Linked DNA regions of Homo sapiens: regions 2 and 3 are each linked to region 1. The links come from fine-mapping of genetic effects on gene expression. A gene starts in region 1. Each other region holds a variant in brackets. All regions are shown on one strand. Distances are between the middles of the regions. Region 1 holds the start of CDC7 (cell division cycle 7). Region 2 overlaps LOC102723436 (a long non-coding RNA gene). Region 3 overlaps CDC7 (cell division cycle 7).

Region 1 (2,762 bases):
AGGAAGACTAGACTGAGGTTAAAACTATAATTGGTAAAGAAGCAGCAGGCACTCATATTAGCTAGGATAAGGAGATATTTGATCATTTTTATGGCTTGGGCAATGTTGATGTTGTGTCTGTGTTCACATATGATTATAGAGTGATCTTACTTTTGTCTTGATCTATCACGGTCACAACTCTGTCTTGTCTGATGTTCTGTGAAATTGTTTATGTTCAACAGAAGAATACCAATGCTTGGCTGTGATTGCCAGGCCAGCTCAAAGCAACAGCAAACCAAGCTGGTAGTACCAGGCCATCTCCTGGATGTCAAGGTCTGCTTTTCTCTTTCTCGGTATCCACACTAGAATCCTTGATTTACTCTCTTCCACCTCACTCAATCAAAAACCATTACCTCACAGACTTCCCTTCTATGTGGCACTACCACCCACACATATGCTAGCCCAAAACCTAAGATTCACTGTTGATGATGCCCTTTTCTTCATTTTCCATAGCCAATCACCAAATCCCATTGTCTTCTTTCTTTTATTTCTTCCGCCATTGTTCTGGTCCAAACTACCATTATGTTTCTCCTAAACATAAAGTGCATCCTATTTCCTCTGCTTCCACACTTGCCCCTCTACAATCCATTCTCTTCATAACAGATAGATCATATTACTCCCTTGCTTTAAAACTTTCAAATAGCTTCCAATTGTACTCAGAACAAACACTAAACTTCTTACCCTGGCTTTCAAGGACCCTGGTCTGGCTTCTGCCTAACTCTCCACCTTCATCTATCTGGGACTATCTTGCGGCTCACTCACTATGCTTCCCCCACACTGGCCTTTCCTGCCCTGCCCCTGCAACATACCAAGTTCCTCTTTCTCTCTGCATTTGCCCTATCCTTTCTTTGCCAGGACAACAGTCTCCCTACCAGCTCTTTCTCATCCAGGTCTCTTTGAGAGGGCTTCCCTGACCATCTAGATGCCACCTTCCTGGTCAGTATTTCCCTCAAGTAGTAATCAATGCCGGAAAGAATACTGTTCATTTATTCATCCGTTATTGTCATCGCTTCATTGGAATTTAGCTTCCTACAGGGATGGTGTTTATCTTGCTCACTATGATTCCAGCCCCTAGAAAAACCCACCTACCTCATAGCCAAGGGCTCAGTAAATAGTATACACTGCCTTCCTGCCACTGTGCTAATTTCTACTAACACAGCCACAAACAATCAGCAATTACATTTTCTGCTTGTTTTTAACGGGGAAGTAGGGCACTCAACGAAAAGGAAATAAAAGCAGAGTCAAGAAAGTGCCTTTTATCCATGGAGTGCCCAATGTGTTGTGCGGCCGGCCACGTATATAGGGATGTGTCAGCACCTGAGATTTTTCCTTCTCTGAGCTAGCTTCTTTCCTGGAAATCATGCTGGGCCCTTAGCCTTATGGTTCACCCTGTTTTTTAAGATCATCCACGGGCTTCATTCCCGTAACCGCTCTTCTAGCTGGCCAAGGCGGCGGGAAGAAACCCCACCCTCTTGCGCAAACGCCCAGTAGCGGAATCCGCGGGGTCGAGGGCTTTAGTGTGCGCATGTGCAACCAGAGCGGCGGCGGGAAGTGTTGCGCAGGCGCATCCGATCGACTCGGTAGGTGGGGATCTCTTGGAGACGGCGACCCAGGCATCTGGGGAGCCACAGAAGTCGTACTCCCTTAAACCGTGAGTTTCCGACGGTTTGTTCCATGGCGCGGGATTGTGAGGGATTAGGAACGAATTCTGGATCGTGACTTCGGTTTTCTCGCCGTGCAGTTCCTTTTCCCGCCCCCCTTCGGATCCCTCCGACCTGCGGCGGGAAAGTCGCGCGCCTGCGCACTAAGCATCTGGTTCGGTCTCTGGCCCGAGGGAAGCCGGTCCTTCCCGGCTGAGCTCGCGGCCAGCGCTGGCCGGCGGATTCCCATTCATTCACCCTTCTCCTCCTCCGCCCAGTACTCGTGGCCAGGGTCGTATCAGTTCTCCGTCAACTTGCTTGGGGCCTTGGACGAGCCTCCTGGCGCTTCCTGTCAGTGGCGAAAAGGTTTTCTCCCTCAGTTCTTTTCCTGACTTCAAACCGCCCCCGGCGCTCGGCCCCTCCCCCACGCGGTCCCGCTGGCTGTGCCGGACTGGCAGCCTCGCCGTTTCCCACTGCGCCTGCTGCTGCGCGGGTGCCCAAGCCGGGAAATTCTCCCTGCAGCCCCCTGCCGGTGTTTCTGATAGGTGAAAATAAAGCACATGGAATTCCTTAGACAAGGCCACAGTATGCCCTACTGTGGAGGTTTGGACACATCGTGCGTTTGAAAATGTTTGCCCCTTTGGGGGGCAGTAGCATGTTTTTAGTGCGTGGTTTAGCGAGTGATCTAAATTTCTCTAGTGTTCTAATTTTCACAGCTGCTTTGCTCCCCCTGTGGATGTAACCCCTTAGCTGGCATTTTGCATCTCAATTGGCTTGTGATGGAGGCGTCTTTGGGGATTCAGATGGATGAGCCAATGGCTTTTTCTCCCCAGCGTGACCGGTTTCAGGCTGAAGGCTCTTTAAAAAAAAACGAGCAGAATTTTAAACTTGCAGGTACGTGTTTAAATCCAAAGATGTACAGTTATAAAGATTTTTCAGGCAACAATTCTGTGTTTTCAATTCCTCTCAAAAAATAAGATTGAATCTTATAAAGTGAATTGTATGTTTCTATAGGACAGTGTTAAAACAGAGCTTCGTATGATCTAAATGTAGGACTGAATTGCGATTTGGAAGACTGTAATA
Region 2 (2,762 bases), 47 kb after region 1:
AGGGCCCTGAATTACAGAAGTCGCTTTTCTCCAGTCAGTTCAAGCCAGCCTGGCGCGAGTCCCTCATTCTCCTTTGTCAACGAGGCAAAGACTCAGTTGTTCACCCAACTGTGTCTTGCTGGGGGGCAGCCCTTTCCCTGCCCTTCCCTCTCTCTCAGAAGCCCCAAGTGGGCCTTTCCCCGACCCTACTCTGAGCGCGTGGAAAATCTGCTTCGGGCGCAGATCTCGAGTAGTTGGCCTCCCCTCATTTCCGTCTTTCGCTTCTGCCCGCGTGGGGCCACTTTGGTATAGGTGGGAATTAAGCCGGGGAGGGAGGAGTAGGTCGGAACAGTTTGCAGCTGGCGGCTCGCTGATTGGGTGTTATTTTACAGCTGGGCAGAAATGACCGCGGTAGCACTCCTGGGGAGGCCTCTAAAGCTGCAGACACGATGTGTCGCGGGACCATCCAGTTCTGGCCCCGTGCAGGAGGACAGGACGCCGTCTGGTCGCTGCCCTGGGCGCTCAACATGGGAGCTGCCAGAGGAGAGCGCCCTGTGAGTGCCTGACAAATGGAGGTATTTCTTTCCAGGTTTTACAACCCGATGTATTTTCAGGGAGGACCTTCCTAGGTACCTCCACTTCTCAGTCTCTCAACTCAGCAGCCTCCATCCATTTCCACGAATCCGCTGGACTCGCTCCTGCAAAACACGGTGTGAAATTGACTTCTAACTGGAAGCCTTTCTTTTCCAACCCCATCCACTGCAATTCTTCTGTTTTCAGCACTCTGGTGTTCTGTGTTTTTTGTTGTTGTTGTTTTTGTTTTTGTTTTTTTCATGTGTTTAGCTCGGGCTTTGAAAGAATCTGAAATCTTATCTTTTAATTTCAAATTCCCTAAAGCCACAGAGTGCATCTTTCCCTGTCCCACACAGTGCCTAGTTCAGTTCTTGTCCCACAGTATATTAACCAACTGCCACAAAGCCTCATGTATGCCACACAACTAAACACCAGGACGTCTGAAGGAAAAACTCTAGAAAACTCTAGAGTGGCTCTTTGGAGCAGGAAGAGCTGCTACACTCCCAATGCCCTCTGAGAGCTGCCAGGTCCCATGATGCCTTCTCTTGTGTGTAGACTGAGATGTATTCATTAAGGGTAACACGGTGATTTTTTGTTTGTGCTCCCTTAATTAAAAAAAAAAAAAAGATTTGGTGGGAAAGGCAGATGGAAGTTCTTGAAGGGGGCTACTTCAGAGCAGGTCTTTCTGAGCCCCCTTGAAGCACACCGTGTGTGTGTGTGCGTGTGTGTGTGTGTGTGTGTGTGTGTGTGTGTCTGGGACCCCAGAGTCAATCCAGATGATGCTGATATAGTTACATTTGAGAACCAGTGGTAGGTAGATCTTTGCTACTCTAGTCCTCAGGCAAACAGCATCAGCCTCACCTAGGAGTTTTTAAGAAATGCAGAATCTCAGGACCCAGCCA[G/T]ACCTACTGCATAGAAGTCTGCATTTTAACAAGATCTCTAGGTGATTGGTGTATACACAAAAGTGTAAGAATCCCTGCTTTAGTAATGACTGCTCTGGGAACAAGCTTAAACTTGGGCAACCTGGACCTATGGTCACCCATCCTATCAGGGAGATAGATGGTAGATGGTGGGCTAGGGACAGGGTGAGAGGAAATCTGAGCAGCCACAGATCTGGGGTCCTCTCCCTCCCAAACTGGCCCCTGATTTAGAAATATGGTCTCAAGAGCCTATCTTTCTGTCCCCAGTTTTCACCGTAGACAACTTTCTAATAATTGAACTGTCTGTCCTGCCTGCTAGTTGCCTTTGTTATTATCGTAATCATTAGTGGTTGCTGGAAGTGGGGCAGGGTGTGTTTAGGTGAGCAGGGGGGAGTGTTAATGAGCCCATGGGTCTGGTGTGAGGGGGAGATCCCTGTACCTATCACAACCCTGTGCCTTTATTGCATGCTCCTTTACACACCCTCCACCCCTTGAAGAGGCTTCCCCTGGCCCCCTGCCCAGTAACTTACTTACTATGAATATTCCGTTGCTACATCCTGTTTCTGCTTTTGACTTTGCATCCTGTTCCAGACCCTTAGCCTGCTCCCTAGCCTCTAATCTGACTCTTCCATTAACTGTCAAACCTTCAACAGATAATTCTTTTAGCATCTGCTGTGCACACCAGTAAGTGCTGAAGATTCAAGGTGAACCCAAGACACAATCCCTGCCTTATGGGGTTTACAGCATTGTGTGGACATCCATCATTCACTCAGTCCTCACTGCACCAGAGACGACACTAAATGCTTCACTTGCATAATCTCACTTTTCTCAGTCATAACTGTCAGGTTGTCCCCACTTCATAGTTGAAGAAGCCATGGCTCAAAGACTTAAATAATTTTCCCAGGGTCATAGCTAATTGGTGGCACAGGCAGGAGGATTTAAGCCTAAGTCTGATTGCCTCAAAAATGTCTTAAACCACTCTGTAAAAGACTGTTCTTCATCACTGTATCTCCAATGCTCAGGACAGTGCCTGGTATGTATCACACAATCAACATTTGTGGAAGGAAGGAAGGATGTTGTTTTGAGCCGTCTCTTGGGCTCCACCCTTCAAATACAGAGCCACCTCAAACCCAGCCCTGAGGTTTCTCAGTACCTCTGGGCACCACATCTTCCTTCCTCACAGATCCCCCAGCCCCCACCCTACATCTGAGGCCCTCCCTAATTTATCCCTGCCTCTTAGGGGCAGCCAGCCAGACCAAGAATCCCTTCTTCATCTTGTCTGAGTATAAT
Region 3 (2,762 bases), 25 kb after region 1:
GGTAGAATAAAAAAGAATACTTTGTAATAGCCACAAGTTCTTGTTTAGAGACCAGAGCAGGATTAATAATTTATTTTAACATTTTAGTGTTTGGTGGCACATTCTAAAATATAGATTAAGAATACTTAAAATGCCTGGGATAGTTCTTGGGACTAACAACATGATCTTCTTTGAGTTAAACCTACCTAAGTAGATTTTAGGTGGGTTCCTATTAGGTCAGATTTTTAGCTTCCCTAATTACCTTTCACTGACATATACAGAAAAAGGAGCAGTTTTAGTTTTAATTAATTAAAATTAACAGATGTGATGAGGATTAAATGAATCAAAAGACTTAATTTGTAGATTCTTTTAGAGTTATGAGCTAGGTATAGTTTGGGGAAACTCAACCTGGTGCTGGTGCTCTTAACAATTTTGTAAATAAAGAAGATAATTTCCTTTTCTAGAGGTACATATTAGGCCTTTTATGAACACTAAAACAATGAGGAAATGTTGGTCATGGGGCAAAGTATCACTTAAAATTGAATTCATCCATTTTTAAAAAACACTTCATGAAAGCATTCTGGTGTGAATTGCCATTTTTTTCTTACTGGCTTCTCAATTTTCTTCCTTCTCTGCCCCTACCTAAAACATTCTCCTCGGAAATTACATGGTGCTGACCACAAAGTTTCTGGATGTTTTATTAAATATTGTACGTGTTTACAGTTGGGAATTTAAAATAATACATACACTGGTTGATAAAGGGAAGCTGCAGGACCAAGGTGAAGATTGATAGTCCAAATGCTTTTCTTTTTTGAGTTGTATATTTTTTCACACCATCTTAGATATAATTAGGTAGCTGCTGAAAGGAAAAGTGAATACAGAATTGACGGTATTATTGGAGATTTTTCCTCTGCGTAGAGCCATCCAGATCTCTGTATCCTGTTTTGACTAAGTCTTAGGTGGGTTGGGAAGACAGATAATGAAGTAGGCAAAGAGAAAAGGACCCAAGATAGAGGTTTATATTCAGAAATGGTATATATCAATGACAGCATATCAAACTTCCTATGGGAAAAAGTCTGGTGGGTGGTCAGCTGACAGATTTCCCATTTAGTAGTCATAGAATACAGAAATAGTTTAGGGACATGTATTCATTTTGTTATTTTGAGCATTGATAGGTCAGTATATCTACCTAATCTGTTTGGTAAGTATAGGATATATAAACCATTACCATTGATCTGTCTTATGCCATAATCTTAAAAAAA[AT/A]TTGAATGCTCTTGAATTTGTATATTCAATAAAGTTATCCTTTTATATTTTTTATGTCAGACTACTCATTTGAAAAATAGCTTTTTTTTTTAATTGACAACTGGGAATATTTTTCTTTTGAGATGGGTGAATGGTGATATTCTTTCAGCAAATAGTATGTTAATGAAACAGTCATGTTAACATATATTCAGAAATTAAAGAGGAAGAAAAATTTACCCAAAGGGTAGATAAGGAGACATTCTCTAAGAAAGTTTAATATTCAGGGCTGTTGTTTTAACTTTCATTAATGGCAAAGAACTTGGTTGATATTGAGGGGGAAGTAAAAGGGAGCTAGTGTTTTTAAATATACCCAGTGTTACAAATTAGTTCTCGGGGAATTTCAGTCCCACTGAAGAATATTGCCTCAATTTTGGACAAATATTCCCAATGTGCTAAATCAGAATTGGCAGGGAGCTTTTATATGCGTATTCTTTAGATTTTTAAGCCTTCTGAAGACCATTTTAAATAATGGGAAATGTCTCTAAAATATTTGAATTTCTAAGGATAGACTAAGAAGGTAACTAGTTAATGCCATTTCCTCTTAATCAGCTATTTTTCACTGTCAGTTTTTAAAAATTCCTAGTGCTCAGGCTCGATAAAACTGTTAAGGGTATTTTCATTTAAAAAGCCTTAGACATTTAGAACTATTAATATAACAAGCTACAAGTATTGGTTTTTGAAGCAGGCTGAGCTCTCTGGCATTTTTAATGAAACTTCCTTATAAGGAGATGATTATAGTTGTCTTAATGACCTAAATATGTGGCTCAATAATGGTTATTCCAAAGAATTAATCATGGTTTACTTCAAGATAATGAGCAAGTCATCAAGTAAAACGTTAATATCTTACTGTTCCTGGCATCAGCATTTTAGGGACAAAATGGTGTTACAGATGTCAGAATATTGATTGCATAAAATCTTGAAACCCACAAAACTCGTAGGCTTAAGTCTTAGTAATTTCTGTTGTTTATGTAATTTCAGCCCTGCACGTCACTGAAAAGTTATTTATCTTAACAAACTGGCCAAATTTGGCGGGTAATGCTGTCTGCCAGTATCTGCAGATGTATTGTTTCCGCCTACATTTGTGCATGTTGTCTGTGGTCTTTAAAGAACACTAACACCAGATAGAAATGTCAACTCTGTTCAGATTTTTTCCTATGTTCGAAGAACTGATGTTGCTGATTCCTAATTTTGTCAAATTATGTGTCTGAACTGTCTTCCTTTCTTGAAAGGTAGATATTACCAAACGTATACCAGATAAGTAATCAGAAGTAGTTAATATTGTGTCAAGTTACAGCACAGTTTTCAACAAAGTAACCACAAAGGTCAGTGCTAAGGCAAATATTTAGTAAACGATGTTTTAGCTATCTAAAGTAAAAAGGCATGATCTTAGGAAAGTGATTGCAAATTAAAAGAGAGAAAATTAAAAAACTGAAGTTTGGAAAACAAGTAATTGCAACAGTTTCAAGAGTTTAATCTGACCT

The links. PIP is the estimated chance that this variant, and not a neighbour inherited with it, causes the effect.
Region 2: its variant is the best candidate, but not a certain one, in a credible set for the expression of CDC7 in whole blood (INTERVAL, PIP 0.86).
Region 3: its variant is the best candidate, but not a certain one, in a credible set for the expression of CDC7 in cerebral cortex (GTEx, PIP 0.52).

The regions. Positions count from the first base shown.
Region 1 is chr1:91,499,259-91,502,020 of GRCh38, forward strand. CDC7 (cell division cycle 7) reads left to right here and starts at 1,593. Exons shown (of 12, transcript NM_003503.4): 1 at 1,593-1,690; 2 at 2,396-2,573. The coding sequence starts at 2,459. LOC105378856 (a long non-coding RNA gene) reads right to left here and starts at 1,590. Exons shown (of 3, transcript XR_947599.4): 1 at 1-1,590. RefSeq lists an enhancer at 2,235-2,434.
Region 2 is chr1:91,546,600-91,549,361 of GRCh38, forward strand. All of the region lies in intron 3 of LOC102723436 (a long non-coding RNA gene), which reads right to left. Among named protein-coding and RNA genes, the nearest start is that of CDC7, 47 kb to the left of the region's middle. The variant G/T (reference allele first, on the strand shown) is at 1,455.
Region 3 is chr1:91,524,469-91,527,230 of GRCh38, forward strand. CDC7 (cell division cycle 7) reads left to right here. Exons shown (of 12, transcript NM_003503.4): 12 at 1-1,296. All of the region lies in intron 4 of LOC102723436 (a long non-coding RNA gene), which reads right to left. Among named protein-coding and RNA genes, the nearest start is that of CDC7, 25 kb to the left of the region's middle. The variant AT/A (reference allele first, on the strand shown) is at 1,242.